Linked DNA regions of Homo sapiens. The protein of the gene in region 4 purifies or fractionates together with the protein of the main gene of each other region. This does not show direct contact. Each region holds a gene or a part of one and is shown on either strand. Other genes may lie near its edges.

Evidence for each region. The genes of interacting proteins can lie anywhere in the genome.
Region 1: the proteins of XRCC4 (region 4) and WDR48 fractionate together in Homo sapiens (co-fractionation; one large-scale study listed by BioGRID). This does not show direct contact.
Region 2: the proteins of XRCC4 (region 4) and KIF3A purify together in Homo sapiens (affinity purification with mass spectrometry, with the first as the bait; one large-scale study listed by BioGRID). This does not show direct contact.
Region 3: the proteins of XRCC4 (region 4) and MOV10 fractionate together in Homo sapiens (co-fractionation; one large-scale study listed by BioGRID). This does not show direct contact.

Annotation. Positions count from the first base shown.
Region 1 is NC_000003.12:39,055,016-39,058,515, forward strand, and holds part of WDR48 (WD repeat-containing protein 48), read left to right. Parts: intron 1-3,500. UniProt on the Homo sapiens protein: Regulator of deubiquitinating complexes, which acts as a strong activator of USP1, USP12 and USP46. Enhances the USP1-mediated deubiquitination of FANCD2; USP1 being almost inactive by itself.
Region 2 is NC_000005.10:132,703,047-132,706,546, reverse strand, and holds part of KIF3A (kinesin-like protein KIF3A), read left to right. Parts: intron 1-87; coding exon 88-96; intron 97-2,927; coding exon 2,928-3,084; intron 3,085-3,481; coding exon 3,482-3,500. UniProt on the Homo sapiens protein: Microtubule-based anterograde translocator for membranous organelles. Plus end-directed microtubule sliding activity in vitro. Plays a role in primary cilia formation. Plays a role in centriole cohesion and subdistal appendage organization and function.
Region 3 is NC_000001.11:112,677,659-112,681,158, reverse strand, and holds part of MOV10 (helicase MOV-10), read right to left. Parts: intron 1-3,500.
Region 4 is NC_000005.10:83,203,047-83,206,546, forward strand, and holds part of XRCC4 (DNA repair protein XRCC4), read left to right. Parts: intron 1-505; coding exon 506-661; intron 662-1,768; coding exon 1,769-1,875; intron 1,876-3,500.

The DNA of each region.
Region 1 (3,500 bases), on a different chromosome or scaffold from region 4:
ACATTATTTGCTCTTATACATCAAAAAGAAAACTTCTCATCTTGGAAAAAGCATACATGGGTACTTGGAGTAAATATACTTTGTCTCCTGACTGTCTCAGACCACGAGACAGTAGCCCTGAGCTCCTTGTCAAGTTGTAGGCCAAGACAAACCCTTGAGACTTAAAAATATTGCTAAATAATCAGTGGAGGCCAGGCGTGGTGGCTCATGCCTGTAATCCCAGCACTTTGGGAGGCCAAGGTGGGCAGATCACTTGAGGTCAGGAGTTCGAGACCAGCCTGGCCAACATGGCGAAATCCCGTCTCTACTAAAAATATAAAAATTGCCGGCATGGTGGCGCATGCCTGTAATCCCAGGTACTTGGGAGGCTGAGACAGGGGAATCGCTTGAACCCAGGAGGCGGAGGTTGCAGTGGGCCGAGATTGTACCAGTGCACTCCAGCCTGGGTGACAGAGCGAGACTCCATCTCAAAAATAAAATAAAATGATACTTAAAATCAGTGGAGAGGGGTCCAAACATACTGCATATTAATTGTAGACATAATTTTAAATGAGTCCATGTCCTACCATCTTCAACTTCTAGGAAAACTAGAGATACGAGGGAAGAGGGATGGATTTGTGACTGTCAGAAACATAATCAAATATGTGAATTCAGATACATGATGTAGCATTTTCTCTGGTAACCAGGATATCAAAGCAAGTCTTTTCCATCCTTAGCAGTCCCTTGGTGGTATGATTTTCCAGCAACCTGAGTCTGTTGATTGGCTCTCTGTGCCTCCATTTTTCCTCCTGTTATGGCCTCTTCCTTCAGTGCTTCACAGTGCTTGGGGAAAAAAAATACTTCGCTTAACTTGCTGCCACTTCTAGTTAAGCTCTTTCCCCAGCTAAATGCCAAGAGGACTTTTGTGCTCACTACCGTATCCTCAGCATTTAGAATAGTGCCAGGCAACAAGTGGGTGCCTAGTTAATATTCGTTGAAAGAATTAAATCCATTTTCCTCTATTTTTCTATAGCCAGACATTTTAAATTTTTTCTCTGTACTTTAATGGATGCAGATAACAAGTTTTTAAGGTGACATGTCTTGAAACATATCAGCATATATAGTTTTCGTTCTTTAATGACCACATAGAATGGATGTACCATAATTTGTCTAGCCATTTCCTTATTGAAGATATTGCTTTGATTTTTTTTCCATCATACTATAATTTGCTTTGAAAAAACCTCCAGTTATAAAATAGTAAAGGAAGTGTTACAAAAATAAATGAAAGGACAAAGATAGATAATACAGAATGCATAAAAGATGAGGGATCAGTTTGAAAGTTCCAGTATCTGACTCATTTGAGTTCAAGAAAGAGCAAAGAAAACAGAGATGATGATTAATAATGGATACAAGAAAATTTCCCGGAGCTTAAGTGCCGCAAATTTCTAGATCGAAGGGGCTTTCTAAATGCACAGAAAAACTAATGATAGAAAAAACAAACAAGAAATGTCACAACACCAAGGAAAAAGAGAAAATCCTGAAAGCTTAGGGAAGGAGATGACGAGGGAGTGGAGGAAAGAATGAAAATAGGATCCCTTTAAAGCTGTATGAAACAGAATGGCATTGAAATCAGTGGCAACATTGGATGCTAGAGGAACTTACAGCAATGCTTTCAAGAGCTGAGAGAATTGCTAAATCAAGTGTAAATGTGGAGGAAAGACCTTTTCAGGCATGCAAGGACTAAGTTGCCAACCCATGTGCCTTTTCTTATATTACTTTCTTAAGGTATTGGGGATGTATTTCAGCAAAACTATGGAGTGAACAAAGAAAGAAGGAGGCATTAGAATTCAGGAAACAATGGCTGTAACCCAGAAAAGCAGTAAAGGAAAACACCAAAGGTGACAGCTGTGCCAGCAGATCTAGAGGGCAGTCAGCCTAGATTGTAATGAGAAGAAGGAGGGTTTGGAGGGGGAAGCCTTCTGAGAAAATAAAGGGGTGGGGGTGAGTTCTGTGGTACAGCAATTAAAATTGAAATTAAAGTGGAGAAAACCATTGAAGAAGGAAAAATTAAAACTCTAGGGAAAACAAAAAGCTCTTTGAGGAAGGAAATGTATTCATAATATAGTACTTAGTAGATAGCCTTACAGTCACAACAATATAGCACGGATTATTTGTTCAATTAAAAATAGGGATGTATCTATATTAGAAGAGTAGAGGGAGGAGATATTGAGGGTAGTTTCAGAACTACATCCTAATCTACAGTAGCATGAGTAAATCGATAATGTCTAAAATGGATGAGCCAAAAAGTTATAGGATAAGCACAATATTTAGAGAAATGCAGTTAACTATCCAGTAGCAACAACTGAGTTGCAATTAGTTACCTTTAGGGATGAAGACTAGGTGTGGGAGTCTTATCCAGACAGTAGAGAGACTGTTTTTCATTACAGTCATTACTATTTGATTTTCTAAATACAAGCAGGAATTACTTGGATAACAAATGATCAAATTTTAAAAACTAAGTAATACATGTTGTTTGTAAAACATTCAGAACACATGAAAGAGACATGAATGAGTGAAAAATCACCATAATCCCATCATTCAGAAATAACTGCTGGTTATTTTATTTTATTTTTATTTTTATTTTTTTGAGACATTGTCTCACTCTGTCTTAAGGCTGGAGTGCAGTGGCACCGTCATGGCTCACTGCAACCTCTGCTTCCTGGGTTCAAGTGATTCTCCTGCCTCAGCCTCCTGACTAGCTGGGACTACAGGTGCGCACCACCACACCCGTCTAATTTTTGTATTTTTAGTAGAGACGGGGTTTCACCATGTTGGCCAGGATGGTCTTGATCTCCTGACCTCGTGATCTGCCCGCCTTGGCCTCCCAAAGCTGGGATTACAGGCATGAGCCACTGCGCCTGGCCCCTGGTTATTTTTATATATGTATAGTCTTCAAAACTTGTGTATTTGTTCTGAAATATTTAATATTTTGAAACATTTTTATAATAATGACTATTGTACATTGTTGTGTTGGACCACACATATTTCACTAAAAATATATCATGGCTTTCCGCCCATGTTTATCAGTCTAGACCTCCATCAACTCTTTCTTATTCTTTAGAAACAGGGCTCTCATGCTGTTGCCCAGGTTGTAGTACAGTGGTGCCATCATAGCTCACTGCAGCCTCAAGCTCCTGGGCTCAAGCAGTCTTCCCACCTCAGCCTCCTAAAGCACAGAGATTACAGGCATGAGCCACCACACCTGGCCTACATCAACATTTTAAGTGATTGAATAGTGTTGTGTTTTACAGATGTGCGTGCTAGAATTTATCCAACTAGGATACTTCTAATTCTTTTGCATTTTAAAGCACACGTCTTTAGGAAATACCGTTGAAGAGGTTGGCCCAGACTGGTTTTAACAGTAATTACTTTCCACCTAGAATGAGAATTCTGACATTCAGGTTATTCTTTCACTCTTGCCTTAACCAGTCAGATAATCTCCCAGAAGTCTGGATATCAAG
Region 2 (3,500 bases), about 50 Mb from region 4:
AGAGAAATAATGTTTTCCTTTTTTTCCTCCTCATCTCTGTGCGTATTGCTTCCTGTCTGCGATTTGCTTACTACTTCTTATTGCAAGATCAAGCAGGTTGGTGTGATTGATTTGCACTCCACATGGTACAATTATTTATCCTATAAAGAACTATGTTATTTAAATACATTAAATTTTTAAAATTTAGTAGTTTTTTTACCAGGTAAGTATCTATCTTTTGTATTTTTAACAATCTTTCAACTTTAGCTTTTAAAAAGAACTTCATTTTTTTCCCTAAATTCTTAAAGACTCATTAAGCCAAAGTTTGGAAATACAAGTGTAAATTATTTCACATTCAAACATTTTTCTCCTTTTTTCTTAAAGCCAAGAATCAAATACCTGGTTATGCCGTGGTTGCTTATGTAATAAAAATGAAATTAATTCAATTAGGACTGCCCTGAAGTTCTTCCCCTTTGACTTACCCTGGCCGGTTAACGTTCACAATATTGGTTAGAGCACATGGCAAAGGGCAATAAAAAAATGTTGCTACTTATGTCTGGTTTAGTTAAATACTGTTTATGGCATTAACTTTTAAAAATATTTATTTACCTGAAATTTTGTGCTGAATTTTATCATGCATTGTTAGAAATAGATTTCTTTTTTGTTTGATTGGTTTAAGAAGGTTTTTTTAAAAAAAAGTCCTTTGAAAAATACATATAAAAGTGACTTTTACTGATGTCACATTTTTAAATACCTGGTTAGGAGAGTTAGCACATATTCACATTTAGCTTAAAATATTATTTGTGGAGAAATATAATGATTTGTCAGAGTGATTCTGGCTAAAGTAATATGTTACTTAAATATTAGGCTTTTGAAACTAACCCTGGCTATATATCTTTGATTGTCTTCATGAAAGTGTTACAAGACCACAATAAGATTTTTGCTGCTAAAGTATCAGTTTGGAAACATACCTGAATGGTTTTAAATTACTAATGTAATGCATTAATGCATGAACAGTTATGTGTCTTTGTATTTCCACATGTAAAATCTTTTTATTTAAAAAACTTTTTATTTTACTGCTTCTTAATGGGTTTTGAAACTGTTTTTAACTATTGAAACAATTAGAACCCTTGAAGCCTGTACATACTACTGTTCATATGTTGATTAGATCATTTCCTCTATACTGTTAGCATCAGTGTCTTCATGCATTTATTATTTTTGTCTTAACATATGTCCCATTTTGTCTTTAAATATTTATAATTCTCAGGTGGAAAGGAAGTTACACTTTTTTAAATGCGTATACTTACTATATACCTGAACTGATACTTTTCTCCTTCAAATTTCTAAGACATAGTATGACTGATGGGATAAGTAGTTTGGGAATAGTAGTTAAATTATTTTAAAGTTATTTTTTAACAGCTAATTCAAAAGATTCAATACAGATGACTGTGCCAAACAAGCCAGTAAATAGAATCAGTCTACATCCTGACTTTTGGAATGCAATGAATCACACCACACCAAAGCATGAATTTGGATCAGTGCTTTTATTTACTCTTTTATTTCATTTGTCTTGTGTCTTAGGTTTGCTCTGGACTTACAGTTCTATACAAATAATGTATTTTAAACCCTAGAGTTTTTTACATAATTTTGTCATAAAGAGTTAAAGCCTATTAATGATTCTTCATTTCATAGTTCCTGAAAAAATATACTCAGTTATATATCTCCATCATAATTATTTTTCAGTTCTTTTTCCTTGTTAGGTGGTGGGGGTTAGCTTTTGGGTGGAGACATTAACAATTTATACACTCTTATGATTTACACTCTTCTTCTGTAGTTCTTTGGGAAGGAAGTTAAGAATGACGGAAAGGTTCTAGGAGAGCCTCAGACCAATTCTGTGAAAAGTGTTATTGGTTTTCTGAAGGAATGTATGTTTCTAAGAAACTGTATGACCAGAAATGAATTGTCTTTGATTCAGTTTCATCACCAGTTTAATAAGCTAGTTTTATTTTCTCTTTTTCATTTGGATTTTGTTATTTTGAAATTCATTAATAAACTTTCTTTGAGCACCTATTACATGTATGTAAAATACTTTATTAGACATTATTAGCAAAAATAATCAATTGGAAGCCATATTCCAGCTTTATTATTTGGTAGTATTTCTACTTATATTTGACACTTGGCATGTTTACTCTGACTTAGGGAGCCTTCGGGTCCTGAGTTTGACATAATAACAAGCTATTTTAGTTGTTCCTTTAGTGTATGATGATATATCTTGACAGCTCAGCAACTGTGAAATGCTTGGTTAATTACTGTGTATGTAACTGTTACATAATTACATAGTATAGAATTTTTTCCTTTAAAAGTATGCTGTGAAATAAAATACTTTAATGTTATTAAACAAAAATTTTAGAAAAACTCTGAAAAATATATTAAAACTACTTGATGTAAATTCTGCCTGATATTTTCATCTGTGCATTTTATACCTATATATGACTTTTATTCACTTGTTTTATGTGAACTTGGGGAAGATATTTTAAGGAGTCGCTTGATTTTATACTTGGTTATCAGGAAAAAGTAACTGAAGAATCATGTTGCTTTTTTTTTAACCTATATTTGTTATCTGGGGACATATATATTTTTTAATTTGGCTTTCCTGTTAATCTTTCTTTTCCTATTATTTAGCTCATCTATTTTGCTTCTCTTTCGCTTTTGTTCTTAGTTATCATTGTACAATTGGACAACAGTTTGAATTTAGCAATGAGTTATAAAGTTCTAGGAGCATAATAAATGGAAATGCATGATATTATTGGTTTGATTTCCTTAAAATATTGATAATTGGTTTTGTATTATTGAGGAGTGTAGGCATTTCTATATTGAAGGAGGTAATTTATATAAGTCTGAAACATTGATTCATTTTAGTGATTGTTGCAATTAAATGATTCAAATAGGAAAAAAGAAAGTCTCCCCAGACAAGATGATTGAAATGCAAGCAAAAATTGATGAGGAGAGAAAAGCACTTGAAACAAAGCTCGACATGGAAGAAGAAGAAAGAAACAAGGCTAGAGCTGAATTAGAGAAACGGGAAAAAGATCTTCTTAAAGCCCAGTGAGTATTATTGAATTGAGATGAATTCATGATTTAAATTTCTGTTTTTTCCTAGGATATATAAAATAGGAAAATTGAATAGTAATTAAAAGCTTGGATTTTTGTCTCCAGTGTAGCTATTTTGGATAGAAGGGTCCATTGTATATAGTGTATTTCTAAAAACTAGATCTATTTTGGTTATTTTATTTCCGTGTGATAGGAAAACATATCAATGAATTAGAATGAGTTATAAATTAAGTTAGAAATCGATACTACACAGTGGTGTAATTTGGCAGAGATGTTACATAATTATATTTCTATTTTGAAATTGTATATCCAAATTTTAAATTTTGGGAAATGATATTAGTAGAATAATAGATCATCAGTGAATATAGAGTATTCTCATTCTAATCAACAGACAAGAGCATCAGTCTTTG
Region 3 (3,500 bases), on a different chromosome or scaffold from region 4:
ATATCAAGAGGTACCTGAGTACAGGGCGGAATGTGGAAATGGAGGTTGGATGCCCATAAGGGGAGGGGTCCACAATAAAAATGATATGTGATAATGATCCCACGTGTGTAAACTTATGTAGGTGTGATATAAGCATGCCTGCAAAAAGAGATAAATGAACCGGGTGCAGTAGCTCACGCCTGTAATCCCAGCACTTTGGGAGGTCAAGGCAGGTGATCACCTGAGGTTAGGAATTCAAGACCAGCCTGACCAATATGGTGAAACCTCGTCTCTACTAAAAATACAAAAATTAGCCAGGCATGGTGGTTCACGCCTGTAATCCCACCTACGTGGGAGGCTGAGGCAGGAGAATTGCTTGAACCCGAGAGGTGGAGGTTGCAGTGTGCTGAGATCGTGCCACTGCACTCCAGCCTAAGTGACAGAGAGAGATTTAAAAAAAAAAAAAAAAAAAGAGATAAATGAAAAGGTGATCACCAAAAGTTTTTTTTTTTTTTTTTTTTTTTGAGACGGAGTCTCACTCTGTCGCCCAGGCTGGAGTGCAGTGGTACAATCTCGGCTCACTGCAAGCTCCGCCTCCCGGGTTCAGGCCATTCTCCTGCCTCAGCCTCCTGAGTAGCTGGGACTACAGGCGCCCGCCACCACGCCCAGCTAATTTTTTGTATTTTTAGTAGAGATGGGGTTTCACCGTGTTAGCCAGGATGGTCTCGATCTCCTGACCTCGTGATCCGCCCACCTCTGCCTCCCAAAGTGCTGGGATTACAGGCGTGAGCCACCGCGCCCGGCCCAAAAGTATTTTTAAAACATTTAAACAAGTATCTAACATAAAACATTAAAGCCCTTAATTCCCTTGCTTCCAACTACTTGCTTGATTAGGAGCAATTAATTAAACCCACTATTTGATGTATGTTTTTCCTGATTTTTTTCTATGCATATAAAACACAATAATGAGATGATACATGCTACACATACTATTCTGCAGCAGGCGTCTTCCCACCATGGATCTTCTCCCATAACAATGCTTTACAGAACCACCATGACCTTTTGAATGGCTACAAAAGATAGCATGTATGAATGCATCATGGTGTGTTTTTTTCTCTAGTGATAGACAAGCTGCCTGAAATTTCTGGCTACTCCTAATGTTACAATAACTATCCTTGCACACAAACCCTTGTACTTGTAGGCAAGTCTAATGGGATAAATTCCTTAAAGTACAACACCTGGGTCAAAGAGAATGAACCTTTACAACTTTGATAAGTTCTGCCAAATTGTCCTTTAAACAGGTTGTACAAATTTATGTTCTCACTAACAAGAGTTAGAAAATGCCCTTTTCCCAAAGCTCTAACATCAGAAATTTTCAATGTTTTAAATTTTTGACAATTTGATTACAAAAACTCCTATCTTTTTAAACTGTGCATTTCTCTGATCACCAATATAGTCAAGGATCTTTCCTTCTTTTATTAGTCATTTATATTTCTTCTGTGAGCTGCCTGATCATACCCCTTGCTCAATTTTCTAGGTTCCAGTTAACTGTTCTCCCTACCTCTGGCTTCATACCCCTACACTAGGCCACCCCCTATATCTGCAGAATTGTCATCAAACACAAATCTGATCTTGTTCCCTCAATTTACAACTCCATAGTCCACAAAATTAAGTCTTTAATATGGCACCTTCCAAGATCCTCCATAGTAACAACGATAATGCAAATACAATAACATCAACAGAAAACGTTTCCTGAATGCATTATCTCATTCAATCCTCAAAACAACCCTTTGAGGTAGTAATTATTATCATCCCATTTTAGAGAAAAAGAAATTGAGGTACACATCCTCAACCACACTTGGCCTCTTGTCAATCCATCCTTATTTCAGCCATTCCCAACTACTTGTATCACTGTGCCCCTCTGCAGACTTCTGTGCTGTGGACATCCTTAGCCTGCACTGCCCTGCCTTAGGCCGCCCCTGCTGTTTGTTGGGTGAACAATGGCTAATCTTTTTAGACCCAGTTCAGGAAAGGCCAAAAGCTAGAGGAATGGTATTTCAGCACATATGATCAGATTTGGAAGTGATCTTAAAGAGACATCTAGTTTCACAATCTATAGACTATGGATTCCAACTCCCATTAGCGGGTCAAAGCCAGGGTTTTTATAAAATTGAAATAAAATAGAATAAAAAATATCAGAGAGCAGGGAGTGAAACTATGTATTGTTTCAAGGGCAGGCATTGTTTTGTGAAGGTTGTGTATGCCAGGTCCCAAAGTAAAATGTGTTTTTTACTGTGGGTAGAGGTCCAACCACCAAGCCACTCTCCACGCCAGAAGCCAGAATGATCTTTCTAAATCTGATTACGTCAGACTCTTACTTTGAAATTTTCTGTGTTTTCCTATTTCCATTAAGATTAAAGACAAAACAAAACACCTCACAATGCCTACCCAGGGCCCTGCTGGTCTCCCGTTCTTCTGAGGTCATCCCAAGCCTTTGAAGGTGCTGTTCCTGCCTGTACACTCTACCCTTGCCCTTTACACCTTCTAAGTCCCATTAATCCTTCAAGATTCTACTCAAATATCACTTTCCCCAAGAAACCTCTGCCTAAGTTTCTTGATCTAGTCTAGGTTGCTAGACTAGGACAGATCTCCAAATTATATACTCTCAATGCATACTGGACTTTTCTGTACAAGCACTCATCACAACCGTAATTAAATAATTATCTAACTGCTGCCTCCTTCCTTAGTTAGTTGGGTTCCTTTTGTATATTTCTAGCAACTCACTTTTGCTTTGCCATTCATAGGAAGCACTCAGCCAGTACTTGTAGAAGAATGAGTCTCCTGTCCAAAGCAAGAATCATCTTCTCTCAGAAACCTTTTCGTGACATCAGTCCTTACCCCATACAATGGACTCCTAATCATCATCGCACTAATGAGGGGTACCACTTAACAAAGCCAGTGTAATATGCTAGCCACACAAATGCTTTGCCTAGGACAACTCATTTTGGTCTCTCACAACCCCGAGAGAAAGGTACTATTTTACATACTCTTACAGTTGGGGAAATGGAAAATTTAGAGAGTTGTTCAAAGTTAAATGCAACCACTAAATGGCAGGGCTATCTAAACACCATTACTAGCACCTATACTACTGTATTGCATTTGTTTGTCTACACATATCTGCTGCTCTTTACTAGATTATATTCTTTGGAGGCAAGGACCAAGGCACAGGCACACAGTAGAGCCTCATTAACTATATTTGCTAAATGAATAAAGGTAGGTGGGAAAAGGCAAGAGTTCAGAGCAGAGCACTTTATAACATCATAAAATAACCTAGCTGGAGAGACCTATCCCCTCTCAGTGTAGGAATCTCCTAGAATTCCTAAAGAGTGTGACTTGCTATACCCCCCGCTATATGGCCCATTCTCTTGTTAGTTAACTCTAGTTGCTAGTTCACTTAGATTCTGCAAGCATTTATTGAGCATCTACTACATACAAAGCTCTATGCTGGGGACTGCAGACAG
Region 4 (3,500 bases):
TGTGTGTGGTGCTCGCTTATAAGAATATAACTGGATAAGTCGTGTTCTTGTTGTGGAGCAGTTTGTTGTCTAGTAGATAAATCAGACAAATTAGCTATGTTGCCTTATCACAAAATAAGATTGTAGTTGCTTTTATAGTAATATTAACATAGTACTGAGGAAACAGGCTACATTTACTCTTGTTTGAAATTTATCCCATAAAAACATTCTTTTGTAAATAAACCATATGTATCAATAAATTATCTTTAGGCATTTTGATTTTCTAAAGGCTTATTTGTATCAGTTTTCAATTTTGATCCTTATCTCAGTAAATAAATTACATTAATAACCAATAATTTCTAATTGTGTATTTAACCATCTTTATAAAACTTCCAAGTCAGTGAAAGCATATGTGAAAATAATCTTTAATTGTATTTTCCTTGAAATCTTCTTGATTATTAGGCTGAATTATGTTAATGCTAAGCAGAACTGCATGACTAATTTGTTTACTTATTTACTTTTTTAGATTTGAAAAATGTGTGAGTGCTAAGGAAGCTTTGGAGACTGATCTTTATAAGCGGTTTATTCTGGTGTTGAATGAGAAGAAAACAAAAATCAGAAGTTTGCATAATAAATTATTAAATGCAGCTCAAGAACGAGAAAAGGACATCAAACAAGAAGGGTATTTTCGCTATCTTGTTTTTGGATGACAGATGAATACATTTAAGTGGAATTTCTTCCCAAAGTTAATGAACATTAGATGCCAACTTTTTGATCATATGAGATAATTTGGTAGTCTGGATGTGGATGTTCAGGCTGTTAGATAGGGGTACCATGGGCTAGAGAGTTCTCAGCATGGTCTCTCTATGTCTGCTCAACTGTGTCACCTACACTTAAATTAAAAAACTGACATGAGGCTTATTAAAGTATTATTTAATTCTTAGACATTAGTAAGACATACTAATTTAAAAAAAAACTTTCATCTGCAGAACTACAAAAGTTGGATGCATATTTGTAATCTTGATGTCTAGGCAATGATTAACTTTAGAATCAAGTGGTTAATATTAAATTCCAGGGAGCACTTATTTTATCTGATTAGAGTGTGATTATCAGTTTTATTCTTCTTTCACATATTCTCTGAAAGTACATATGTACTTGATTTTTATGGAAGAATCCTAAGTGACAAATGGCTGATACGGCTTTCGACGATTATAACTTTTTTACGCATTAGCAAATACAAGTTAGGGTCTGTTGCTTTGAATCTTAGTAGAAGTACAGAATTACCAGTGACGTAGTATAAAAAAATTTGATATCAGCTAGTCCTAGCACAGGTACTGGTCTTGCAGTCATACCTATTAGTTTATAGCTTTGGACAAGTCACTTTATCTTCATAATAAAGGTAAAGATACCCATCTTAGGGTTTTGCAGAGATCAAATGAAATGCGAACTGTTCTGAGATTAGTAAAATGTTAAATACTCTGTGACTCACAGAGATAATTTGTTAGAAAAAGTATTTTGATGGAAGAATAGTACCTGATAAGAAACTGATTTAATATTAATTATAATAAGTACTAAATTCAGATTAAAATTAGGTAAAAGAGAAACTTGTTCTTAAGAGAGTTAATATATAGGTTTTAAGATGCTTTCATCTAAATCATATATATTTTCAATATGTTTGTCTAATTAGAATCTTTTTCTAGGAATATTTTCTATAATTGCTTACTGATAAATCTGCTGCCTAGCAGGGGGTGAGCCAGTTATTTATAATTCTACCTTTCTCTGTTTCTAGGGAAACTGCAATCTGTTCTGAAATGACTGCTGACCGAGATCCAGTCTATGATGAGAGTACTGATGAGGAAAGTGAAAACCAAACTGATCTCTCTGGGTTGGCTTCAGGTAAGAGATACATACATTTATCTCCTCTGTTGAATATCTTATTTGGGCTTCTTATTCTAATGACAAGAAACCATAATGGAAAAATGTTGTGAAAGACCTTATTCTATGAAAATTCTTTAGCATTTTTATTTTAAAAACTCAAATTTTTAATGTTAAAACTTAATATTATTTGTAAAATGCAGCAACTCATTAGCACAGCAGTGTGAGCAAGCATTCATACACATATACTCCAAGGTATACTATTCCTGGTTAAATATAACCAGGAAAAGCATAAGCAATGAGGAAGAAACACCTTTATGCTAAATATCATCAGCTTAAAGCTGGTTGCCTTTAACATTTGAGATCTTATTTAGCTAAAGCCATGAATAGGCCACTGGAGCAGAGTAATCAAGAATGCTCTAAATTATACTGAAGTTGAGGCCTTCTTTCACTCTTCAGAAAAAAGATTGCAACAAGTGAGATGTAATAGAGGAAAAGAGAAGGGGAAAAATGGCAGTTTAGTACAAAGTACCTATGACTTACTCAGTCCTTTGGATCAAGTTCCCAGCAAGTGTTTAAACCCATGAGTTATTTTTTAAAATGTTTTATAGATTTCCTAGTGACGGTGGAAACAGGAGCCTCTGAACTCATTTTATACTTAGATGGTTTTGACCTAAAACCAATACTATTAAAATAAATGCTTGATTTATTTATTTAGAAAATATTTTTGAGTTCCTATTATGTACTAGAAACTTTGCTATGCATTAGACAGCAAAACACAAAAATCTGTGCCATTGTGGAGTTTAAATTGTAGTCAGGGAAACATATAAGATGAATAAATATAAAATATGTTAGGTTGATAAGTGCTAAAGAGAAAAATAAACCAGAGAAGGCGTTAGAAAGGTCAGGGTGAGAATAAGGATGAGGGTTATGATTTTAGCCAGACTATCAGAAAAGGCCTCAGTGAGAAGGTGAAGGTGACATGCTGTCTTGGGGAAGACCATGCCAAACAGAAAACAAAAACAAAAACAAAAACAAAAAAACACTAAGTACAAAGTTCCTGACGCGTTTAAGCAATACTATAGAGTGTAATCTGGATAAAGTAGAAAGATGAAGACTGGGAGAATTAGGAAATGAGATGAGAGAGATGATGGGACCTCATCACGTGTAGGGCGATATAGGCTACCATTAGAACTTCTCCTGTTACTTTGAATTAACTTGGAAACTACTGAAGGATTTTAAACAGTCAGGTGACATAATCTGACTCAAATTTCAAGAGGATTAGTCTGTGTATTGTGTTAAGAATAGACTATAGGATGACAAATGCAGAAGAAGATATAACAGATGGGAAGCTAGTACAACAATTCGGTGAAGGATGAGGCTGGCTTAGACCAGAGTGATGGAGAGGCGATGAGCAAGGAGCAGATTCTAGGTGTGCTTAGAGGCAGCAGGATTTGCTGATGAAGGGGTTATGACTGAGCAAATAAGACTGAGAAGGAGCAGCCAGGAGGTAAGAGGCAAAAATATAAATGTGGTATCCTGCTGATTGATGGATTTAGCAATACAAACGTTATTAAGGATCTTAATAGAACATATTCACTGGATTGGTGAAGGAAGGGGATAGGAGAGAATAGGAGTTTCAAAGG